2 separate regions of the Homo sapiens genome follow, and region 1 is linked to region 2. Evidence: fine-mapped expression QTL. A gene starts in region 2. The other region holds a variant in brackets. All regions are shown on one strand. Distances are between the middles of the regions.

Evidence for each region. PIP is the estimated chance that this variant, and not a neighbour inherited with it, causes the effect.
Region 1: its variant is the best candidate, but not a certain one, in a credible set for the expression of SETD6 in whole blood (INTERVAL, PIP 0.90).

What each region holds. Positions count from the first base shown.
Region 1 is chr16:58,567,160-58,572,537 of GRCh38, reverse strand. All of the region lies in intron 16 of CNOT1 (CCR4-NOT transcription complex subunit 1), which reads left to right. Among named protein-coding and RNA genes, the nearest start is that of SNORA50A, 9.9 kb to the right of the region's middle. The variant ATG/G (reference allele first, on the strand shown) is at 2,912.
Region 2 is chr16:58,512,585-58,517,962 of GRCh38, reverse strand. It overlaps SETD6 (SET domain containing 6, protein lysine methyltransferase), which reads right to left and starts at 2,446. Exons shown (of 8, transcript NM_001160305.4): 1 at 2,399-2,446; 2 at 1,866-2,172; 3 at 1,620-1,761; 4 at 1,291-1,485; 5 at 1,035-1,155. The coding sequence starts at 2,425. It overlaps NDRG4 (NDRG family member 4), which reads right to left. Exons shown (of 15, transcript NM_001242835.2): 15 at 4,344-5,378. RefSeq lists enhancers at 573-742, 1,392-1,561, 2,602-2,771 and a silencer at 1,822-2,481.

The DNA.
Region 1 (5,378 bases), 55 kb before region 2:
CTCAAACTCTGAAGTAGCTGGCATTACAGGTATGCACCACCATGCCCAGCTAATTTTTTATTTTTTGTAGAGACAGGATTTCACTGTCTTGCCCAGGCTAGTGTTGAACTCCTGGGCTCAAGGCATCCTACCACTTTGGCCTCCAGAAGTGCTGCGATTGATTACAGGCATGAGCTACTGCACCTGGCCTATCTTTGTAGATCTATCTATTATTGAAAGTGGAGTACAGAAGTATTCAATTTTTTTTTTTTTTGAGATGGAGTTTTGCTCTTGTTGCCCAGGCTAGAGTGCAGTGGCATGATCTCGGCTCACCGCAACCCTCCGCCTCCTGGGTTCAAGTGATTCTCCTGCCTCAGCCTTCCAAGTAGCTGGGATTACAGGCATGCGCCACCACGCCTAGCTAATTTTGTATATTTAGTAGAGATGGGGTTTTTCCATGTTGGTCAGGCAGGTCTCGAACTCCTGACCTCAGGTGATCCGCCCGCCTTGGCGTCCCAAAGTGCTGAGATTACAGGTGTGAACCACCACGCCCAGCCCAATTTTTTTTATTTTTAATTTTTTATTTTTCTGAGACAGAGTCTGCCTCTGTCCCCCAGGCTGGTGTGCAGTGGTGTGATCTTGGTTCACAGCAACCTCCGCCTCCTAGGTTTAAGCGATTCTTGTGCCTCAGTAGCTGGGATTACAGGTGCTCACCATCACACCCAGATGATTTTTAAATTTTTAGTAGAGATGGGATTTCACCATGTTGGCCTGGCTGGTCTCAAACTCCTGACCTCAAGTGATCCACTCGCCTCAGCCTCCCAAAGTGCTGGGATCACAGGCATGAGCCACTATGCCCGGCCTCCTATTATTTTAACTGTCTTTTTCTCCCTTCAGTTTTGTCAGTTTTTCCGTCAGGTGTTTGGGGCTTTGTTTTTAAGTACATGTGTTTTTATAATTGTTACATACTTCTTTATTTTATTATTGTTTTTGAGATGGAGTCTTGTGTCTCGCTGTGTCACCCAGGCTGGAGTGTGGTGGCACTGTCTTGTCTCACTGCAACCTCCTCCTCCCACGTTTCATTGATTTTCCTGCCTCAGCCTCTGGAGTAGCTGGAACTACAGGCGTGCGCCACCATTTCCAGCTAATTTTTTTTTGTACTTTTAGTACAGATGGGGTTTCACCATGTTCCCCAGGCTGGCCTTGAACTCCTGACCTCAGGTGATCTACCCACCTTGGCCTCTCAAAGTGCTGGGATTATGGTCATGAGCCACCGTGCCCGGCCTTAATGGTTACATATTTCTGATGGATTGACCCTTACTGTAAAATGTCTTTGTCTCTATTAACAGTTTTTTTCTTAAACATTTGTTTTGTTTGATACTAGTATAACCATTATAGTTCTCTTATGGTGGTTTGCTTGGTATATTTTTGTTTTGTTTTTTGTTTTGTTTTGTTTTGTTTTTCTCAAGCTATATGTGTCTTAATTTGAAGTAGGTCTCTTTTAGAGAAGGTATGGTTGGAGCATGTTTGTGAATTTGTGTTTGTGTTTACTACATTCTGCCTGTCTTGCATTTAATGTATTTATTGATAATATAGGGCTCTTTTGCTGTTAATCTTTCTATCTCTTGTCACTTTTGTTCCTCTGTTCTTCCATTACTGCCTGTCTTACTGTTAAATAGATATTTTGTAGTGTACCATCTTAACTCCTATGTTTCTTTGACTTTATTTTTTGTTTTGTTTCTTAGTGGTTGCCTTGGGTATTAAAACTAACATTTTAACTTACTCCAATCTTTTAGTTTCGGTAGGATCCAAAAATTTCATTTAGTATGGCTTTGTCCCCTTCCCCTTGATTTTTGCCATTATTGTCATGCAAATTATACCTTTATACATTATGTGATCACCAAAAGGTTTATAATTCTTGCTTCATGCAGTTATTTTTTTGAGACAGGGTTTCATTCTGTTGCCCACGCAGGACACGATCACAGCTCAGTGCAGCCTCAACCCTCCAGACTCAAAGCGGTCCTCCCAGGTAGCTGGGACCACAAACATGTGCCACCACACCTGATAAATTTTTTAATTTTTTGTAAAGTTGAGGTTCTCAGTATGTTGCCCAGTCTGGTGTCGAACCTCTGGGCTCAAACTGATCTCCCGTTTTAGCTTCCCAAAGTGTTGGGATTACAGAAATGAGCCACTGCACCCAGCCCAGTTGTTCTTTAATTAGGAGATTTATACTGTCCTTTGTATTTACCTGTGTATCTTTGCCAGTAGTTTTTCATACGGATTCAGGTCAGTGTTCAGTGTTTTTTCATTTCAGCCAGGATTCTTGAATTTTTCTTGTTTCAGCAGGACTGCTAGCAATGAATTACCTCTTTTTGTTATCTAGGGAATATCCTAATTCCTCCTGTATCTTTGGGGATAGCTTTGCCAGATGAAGGATTCCTGGTTGGCATTCCTTTTCTTTGAACATTTTGAATATGCTCCCCCACTGCTTTCTGTCCTCCATGGTTTCTGATGAGACATCAGCTGTTAATTTATTGAGTATTGTATGTGATGAGTTGCTTCTATCTTGCTGCTGGTAAGATACTCTCCTTGTCTTTTTTCTTTCATCAGCTTGATTATGTTATTCTAGGTATGAATCTCTTTGAGTTTATTCTACTTAGAATTTATTGAATTTCTTGGGTGTCTAGATTAATGTTTTTAATAAAATTTATCGGGTTTTCAGTCATTATTTCTACAAATCTTTCCGTACCTTTTTCTTCTCTCCTTGTACTCCCATTATGTTTGTGGTGGCACACTCAGTAGTGCTCCACATGTCCTTGAGTTCTCAGCCCCCATCCCCCCACCCCCTTTTTTTTCATTTTCTCAGGCTGGATAATTTTAATTGATCTATCTTCAAATGAACTATTTTGTCTGCTTGAATGTGTGGTGGGAC[ATG/G]TGGTTAGTGAAACTTTATTACAGTTACTGTACTTTTTCTGTTTGGTATGTTGTAGAGTGTAGTATCTGATGGGAAAAAACGAATTTCTGTTTTTTGGTTTTTTTTTTTGCTAATTTCTATGGACATGCTTTTTGAGATAGTATTCCTATGTTTTCCTTCAGTTCTTTTGATATATTTTCTTTTAAACGTGTTCTGTAGTGGCTGGGTGTCATGGCTTCAGCCTATAATCCCAGCAGCACTTTGGGAGGCCAAGGTGGGTGGATCACTTGAGATCAGGAGTTTGAGACCAGCTGGCCAACATGGCAAAACTCCGTATCCACTAAAAATGCAAAAATTAGCCAGGCATAGTGAAGGGCGACTATAGTCCCAGCTACTTGGGAGGCTGAGGCAAGAGAATTGCTTGAACCCAGGAGATGGAAGGTACACTGAGCCGAGTTTGTGCCACTGCACTCCAACCTGGGCAGCAGAGTAAGACTCTGTCTCAAAAACCAAAATAAAATGAAAATAAATGTGTTTGGTAACTGATTTGAATTCCTTGTCTAGTAAGTCCAACAGCAGTGTTTCCTCAAGGATCATTTCTACATAGCTTTCCAGCCCTTTGCATGGGACACCCTTTTGTTTCTTTACAAGTCTTGTAATTTTTTTGTTGAAAACAGACAACTTTAAATAATATGGCATTTCCTGGAATCAGATCTTCCTTCTTCAGCAGAGCACATTGTTCGTTATTGCCCTTTTTTTGTTTAGTGACTTTCCTGAACTAATTCTGTTCTTTATAATAGTTGGCTACTGAAGTTCCTGCTTGGTTAGCCTTGTTGTCAGCTAAGATTGACGAGATTTTCTTAAACCTAATCTTGGGAATCAATTCAGCACTAAGCCAGGCAATTCACAGCCACCTTAGTCTTTACTTCCAAAGTTTTTTTTTTTTCTCTCTTTTTTTTAAAATCGAGACGGAGTCTCGCTCTGTCGCCCAGGATGGAGTGCAGTGGCACGATCTCGGCTCACTACAACCTCCACCTCCGGGGTTCAAGCGATTCTCCTGCCTCAGCTGAGTAGCTGGGATTACAGGAGCATGCCACCACGCCTGGCTAATTTTTGTATTTTTAGTAGAGACAGGGTTTCACCATGTTGGCCAGGATGGTCTCGATCTCTTGACCTCGTGATCTGCCTGCCTTGGCCTCCCAAAGTGCTGAGATTACAGGCTTGAGCCACTGCACCCGGCTCAAAGTTTTTCTTTACAGATTTTTTTTTTTTTCTTGAGATGGAGTTTCGCTCTTGTTGCCCAGCCTGGAGTGCAGTGGCACAATCTCGGCTCACTGCAACCTCCACCTCCTGGGTTCAAGTGATTCTAATGCCTCAGCCTCCCGAGTAGCTAGGATTACAGGCATGCACCATTACGCCCAGCTAATTTTGTATTTTCTTTAGTAGAGACAGGGTTTCTCATGTTGGGCAGGCTGGTCTCAAACTCCCGACCTCAGGTGATTCGCCCGCCTCCCAAAGTACTGAGATTACAGGCGTGAGCCACCGTGCCCGGCCTTCTTTACAGATTTTTAGTTAGCCTGTATGTAGTTTGCTCCAACTGTAGTAGTCTTCCACCTCAGATAGGCAATAAGTTTAAAACAGTTACTTTCAAATGTTTTTTGTAAACACCTCATGCAGAAAAGGTTTTTGTTTGGGTCAGTTTTCAGGTCAAATAAATCCAACCTTGTCATTGTGTTCTCACACAGACTCCCTATACAGATGAAATAATGACAATTCACTGAGAAGGAGGCTTTGAAGATGTTTTAACCCTGTTTTGATTCACCTCTCAGGCTTCTGGTTTTCATTGTGATTGAGGGCTGTCAGCTTCTAAGCTGGCTGTGGAGCTGGAGATGGGAATAATAGGGCAAATTAATGTGCTAGAAAACTTGATAGTCTCTTGAATAAAAATTTCCCACTTGTTATAAGCCTTTGGTTAACTTCCAAAGTTCTGAAAAAGTTGATTCAGACACTTTTCTAGTTGCTTTTATGAAGGAGAGGAAGTCAGCCCATACCCTGTCGTTTTGCTTTATGAGAAGGTTTTTTTTTTTTTTTTTGAGATGATGTCTTGCCTCCAATTACCTGGGATTACAGGTATATGCTACCATGCATGCCTATTTTTTAAATTTATTTTTATTTTTAATTTTCTGTGGAAATGGGGCTTCACCATGTTGCCCAGGATGGTCTCAAACCCCTGAGCTGAGGCACTCCTCCTGCCTTGGCTTCCGAAAGCGCTGGGATTACAGGTATGAGCCACCACGCCCGGCCAGCATTATTTCTTTTTGTTGTTGTTTAAATAGTCTCACTCTATTACCCAGACTAGAGTGTAGTAATGTGATCATGGCTCACTCGTGGGCTCAAGCAGTCCTCTCTGCATCCTAAAGCGCTGGGGTTATAGGCATAAGCCACCTATGCTCAGCCTTTTTTTTTCTTTCTTTCTTTTTTTCTT
Region 2 (5,378 bases):
GTAGTTCAGCCATGACTGATGCTGTTAACTACCAAAGTTCTACCTTTAGTTCCTGTTAGACCCTAAACTGTGAAACAAAAAAGGGTTGGGCTAACTTTAAAAGGCCAGCTTCATGTTTAACTGGGTGGATTTCTGCACAGTCCTCTTCAGCACTTAAAAAGTTGCTAGCTTTAAAAACGAAATTTTCGGCCAGGCGCAGTGGCTCACACCTGTAATCCCAGCACTTAGGGAGGTCAAAGTGGGCAGATCACCTGAGATCAGGAGTTCAAGACCAGCCTGGCCAACACGGAGAAACCCCATCCCTACTAAAAAATACAAAAATTAGCCGGGCATGGTGGCAGGAGCCTGTAATTCCAACTACTCGGGAGGCTGAGGCAGGGAGAATTGCTTGAACCCAGGAGGCGGCAGTTGCAGTGAGCCGAGATCACGCCACTGCACTCCAGCCTGGGCGACACAGTGAGACTCCGCCTCGGGGGGGAAAAAATGGAACTTTCGCAGATCAAAGTGGGAAAGGAAAATGGAGGCAAGGATTAAGAAATAACCATACTTACTAATTTCTGATCCTATAAATGTGCCATCTTTTCAGGCTACTTTTTATATAGAATAGAGCTGGTATAAACACAGCTTTATATCAGTTCTAGGATCGTCTTAGACCTTTGGCCTGTGAATGTCCTCATCCCTCCAAAACACGGAGACTATCACTGTTCCAGGCTGCTATCCACAGAGCCACACACAGTCTGGGCTCACTGATGTGATCAGCCAGAAAGGAATGAAACATGGCTATGCAGACCACTCAATGTCTAGCACTAAATAAATGATGGTAGTATAGTTTATCAGAGGATTAACCACAACTTACTTTGAGGACTTTAAAATGTTTCGCATTCAAATGATTCTACAGTAATATGCATACTAAAAGGACATACAGGAGGAGCTGATTTCACCTACTCATTTTGTAGCACTAGTAAGAGAATGGAGCCTAAGACACAATGGCTTGAATCATGCTCAATCAGTGCACCAAGAGAAACTCCACTCACCGCAGAGTATTCTAGATTGGCGTTGTGATTGGCTAAGTGGTTTAGTATGTCTGCAGCAGGCACCATCACGGGGGAGTTGGGCTCCTTTTCATCCTCTTCTTCCTCCAGTGGTTCCTGAAAGCTGCCATTGACAGAACCTGGCTAAGGCCCTGTCTTGGGTGAGGGACTGGGGGTGGATTTCACTGTTTTTCCACTTTTGTCCCTCTATAGAGTTGTAAAGAAAAGGGTTCCGTCCTCAGAGGCCCCACCCACTGACCTATAGGCCATCACAAGGGCCACCAGCTGGTGGTAGAGTTCTAGGGAGCGAACCCTGAGGCTGAAGAGATCGGGGTGGGCTTCCATGAAGGGCAGCACGATGGACTGGTACTCGCTGCGGATGTTGGCCAAATCCTTCTCCACGGCCTCAGGTACGCCTGTGCCCTGGAGCAGGCACCGGCGCTCCTCCTCTGGCCTGCAGGGACACCCACACCCAGGTTCCCTTCATTCCTTCACACACTTTACTGGGTAGGACTGGTGCAGGGGCGGGGAAACTTCTTGCAGCAGGCTACGGTGCAGGCGCTCCCCAACCCCTCCCAAGGCTCTCACCAGAACATCGGGTGCTCCAAGCGGCCCAGCTCGGGCCAGAGCGCAAAGTAGGGCCTCCAGCGTGAGGCCGGGGCCTGCAGCTCGTGGAGCAGCGCCAGCAGCAGTGGCACCCAGCCCGACTGGCTCTGCAGCGCAACTCGCTCTGAGGAAGACACAGGTGTGAGCGCCCCGGCGCGGCCTCGCGGGCCGGGCCCGCCCCGCCCCGCCCCGCCCCGCCCCAGGGCCCTAGCCCGCCGCCGTGCCCACCTCGCTCCAGCAGGCCGCCGATGGAGCAGGTGTGCTGCGACAGGAGCGCGGCCCGCGGCACCACGAACAACAGCTCTCCGGCCTGCACGCTCTCCCGGGCCACCATGCCGTAGCCGGCCACCGTGCCCTGCCGGCTGACCGCCACCTGAGCAGGAGGGCTGGTCAGGGCAGCCCGCGCCCCGCCGCGGGTCCTCCGCCCGCCGGCTCGCTCGCTCACCTTGGGACTCAGCTCCAGCCCCACCCGCCGGCACCAGCTCAGGAAGCAGGCCACAGGATCCAGGTCGCCGCCGTCCACGGGCCCCGCCACCTGAGATAAGTGCGCGCAGTGACCAGGTCCGACCCCCAGAGAGGCCGCTGGGAACTGCAGGAGACCGCGGCGCGAGCGCAGAACGGGCTTTGGGTGGAGGAGGGGACGAGCGGAGAGGGGCGCGGGACCCGCGGGAGGGAGCGGAGGGGGCGCAGGCGGACGGTTCTGCGAACGGAGAAGGGGTGAGGCGCGGAGGAAAAGGCTGGACCCCGCGCCCGCCACTCACCCGTGGACGCTTCGCCTGGGTCGCCATGGTCTAAGAGCGCGTTTCCTCGCGGGCCGGCGCACCGCGCGGTCACTTCCGGCGTCTCTGGCCCCGCCCCGGCGCCGGAACCACGTGGTGCCTGTTTTGTCGTCCACGCTGCAGACTGGCCGGAGTTACCGCGGGCTGGAATCGTTCCTCATGAAAACATCTTGAGTCCAGGATCTCCAATTGCACTCACGCGCTGCGAGTGCAGAAGGAGAGTCCCGTGCCGCTTGGCGCCTGGTTCTGAGCCAGGTACAGCCCTGGCCTTCGGTCTGTCCCCGAGGGCTGAGGCTTCTTGCGGTCTGGGTGCAAGAACAAAATACGGTTTCTGGATCGGAAGCCGAGGGTCTGGTGGCCGGCCGGTGGTGAGCGACGCAACTGGGCGGCGAGCGACCTCCTGATCTCGACCCCTTGTTGCCGATGGCCATGGAACCCTTTTACTGGTGGTATTCGTTCAGAGCAGTTTTCGTGTGTGTTTCAGAGTGGCGTGGCCTAGAGGGCTCCTGGATCTAGAATAGATCCTCTCTGCCCTTATTTGCCAGTACATCCTCGTTTTTAATCTGCTGCATAGCACGTGGTGGGTTTTATTAGCTGACATAGTAGGGACTCAATATCTACCTATTGGGTAAATAAATGAATAAAACAAATGGTGGTTAAACCTGGGGAAGTAGCATGCTGTTAAATGTAAGAAAATGAGGCTGTGAATATAGAGGTTACAGGAATGGGTTTTGAAGCCAAGCAACGCCGCAGCTCAACACTCAGTTTTTTTTTTTTTTCCTTTTTTTTTTTTTTTTTTTTGGCGCGTTGGGGAGACGGGAGTCTCGCCCAGGCTGGAGTGCAGTGGTGCGATCTCGGCTCACTGCAACCTCCACCTCCCGGGTTCAAGCAATTCCCCTGCCTCAGCCTCCCAAGTAGCTGGGACTACAGGCGTACGCTGCCATGCCCAGCTAATTTTTTGTGTTTATTTTTAGTAGAGTCGGGGTTTCACCGCGTTGCCCAGGCTGGTCTCGAACTCCTGAGCTCAGGCAATCCCCCCGCCTCGGCCTCCCAGAGTGCTAGGATTACAGGCGTGAGCCACCGCGCGCGGCCTGGTCTGTTACTCAGGCAAATCCTTTTTCCTGAACCTTAGTCTCCTCACCTGCGAAACTAAGATAATACCTACTCTGTAGAATTAATGTAAGGATTGGTATGTTGACTAAAGAAAAAATATTAAGCTTTTAAATAATTAAAATTAGTTTTATTTAGAAGCCTTATTGAGGACTATAGACTGAGGCCTGTAGCCCAGGAGTAATCTTGTGAGGCTCCTCTAACACGGTATTTTAGTTTAGGTTATACATAGGTGAAGATTTAGTATGTGTAAAATCATATCAAAGTTTAGGGATAAGTATATCTGGTTATAGATTGCAGAGTATAATCATTAACCCTGTCAGACATGATCGTATGTTTAGGAGAAGGCAAAGAGTAGGTCATTTATCTTTGAAGGAATGTAGTGACTCAGGCAAGAGATTTGGAGGGCAGGGGTGTTTTGTTTTGTCTTTAAGGCATTTTTTTCTGGAGAGCTGTATTTTGTTTTTTTGTTTTATTTTGAGGCAGAGTCTTGCTCTGTCATCCAGGCTGGAGTGCAGTGGCACGATCTCCACTCACTACCACCTCTGCCTCCTAGGTTCAAGCGATTCTCCTGCCTCAGCCTCCCGAGTAGCTGGTATTACAGGCACGCGCCACCATGCTCAGCTAATTTTTGTATTTTTAGTAGAGACGGGGTTTCACCATGTTGCCCAGGCTGGTCTCGAACTGCTGGCCTCAAGTGATCTGCCCGCCTCAGCCTCCCAAAGTGCTGAGATTACAGGCTTGAGCCACCGTGCCTGGCTGAGGAGAGCTGTATTTTGTCACAGAGTCAGGGGAGAAATGAGCACATAAGCAGAAATGAGCACATAAGGCTTTTAATGTTTGTGACATTCTCATCTCACCGGTAAAATAATGTGACGTGTACTGGAAATAGAAAGATGGGTGGAGACCATCCTCTCCTAGCACCCTCAACCCAAAACCCAAGCAGCACCAGCAGCCCCTGCCCAAACATTCTGTTTCTCCAAAAGCCTCCCATGATGGGCATGGCATCACCACACTGGAATTCTTCTTAGGTTCTTTATTAGTTTTTCAGCACAGTTAACTCTTTCTACGTTGACTAGAGTTTTGTTTTACATTTTATCATCTCATGACAGCAGCCACCAGAATACACAAAATTAGGCTCTTTACTTTGTGCGGAGAAGAAAATAATAAACATTAAAAGTTCACCTTGACCAAAGAGACAACCTCCAGAAGAACACCACACATGGGAGGACCCGATGTACACACACACACACACACACACACACACATATAATGTATAGATATTTATAGATACATCTGGAAACAGCAAAAAACAAAATTCCAAGATTTGCAGTGTTATCTACAGTAAGAGGGATGAATTCTACCAGCTTTCAAACAGTCACATTCAGTATTCAGAAGAAGCACATGAGGGGGTAGAACTGGGCAGAAACTAACACGCCACCAGGCTAGTCATGGCTTAAGATTATAGAAGGGGGGTGATGTGTGTAGAGGAAATACGCATATAGGTGTCCTCTCAGCCTCAGAACACCCGCCACAACCCTTCCCCCGTCCACAGCCCTGCATGTTTTCACTGCTCTCTCCCGTTTTGGGGTTTGTGATTATTGATTTAGGGTCTGAGACAAATGGCTCTGGTTTCTGGGCCGCAAGATGCTATGGGGTAAGGTGAGTGGATGGAAAGCATACAACGCAGTCCTGGGCTTCAGGGGACAGCAGGAGGCTGGGGTGTAGGGGAAGCCTTTCTCTTCTACCTGACCCTTGTTCATGTCCAGAACCTTCAGCCCCCAGTAAGCCCCAGCCCAGGCGGCTATGGGGTGTGGGACTGTAGAAGCCTCGCTGCCTTGGGCCAGTTGAC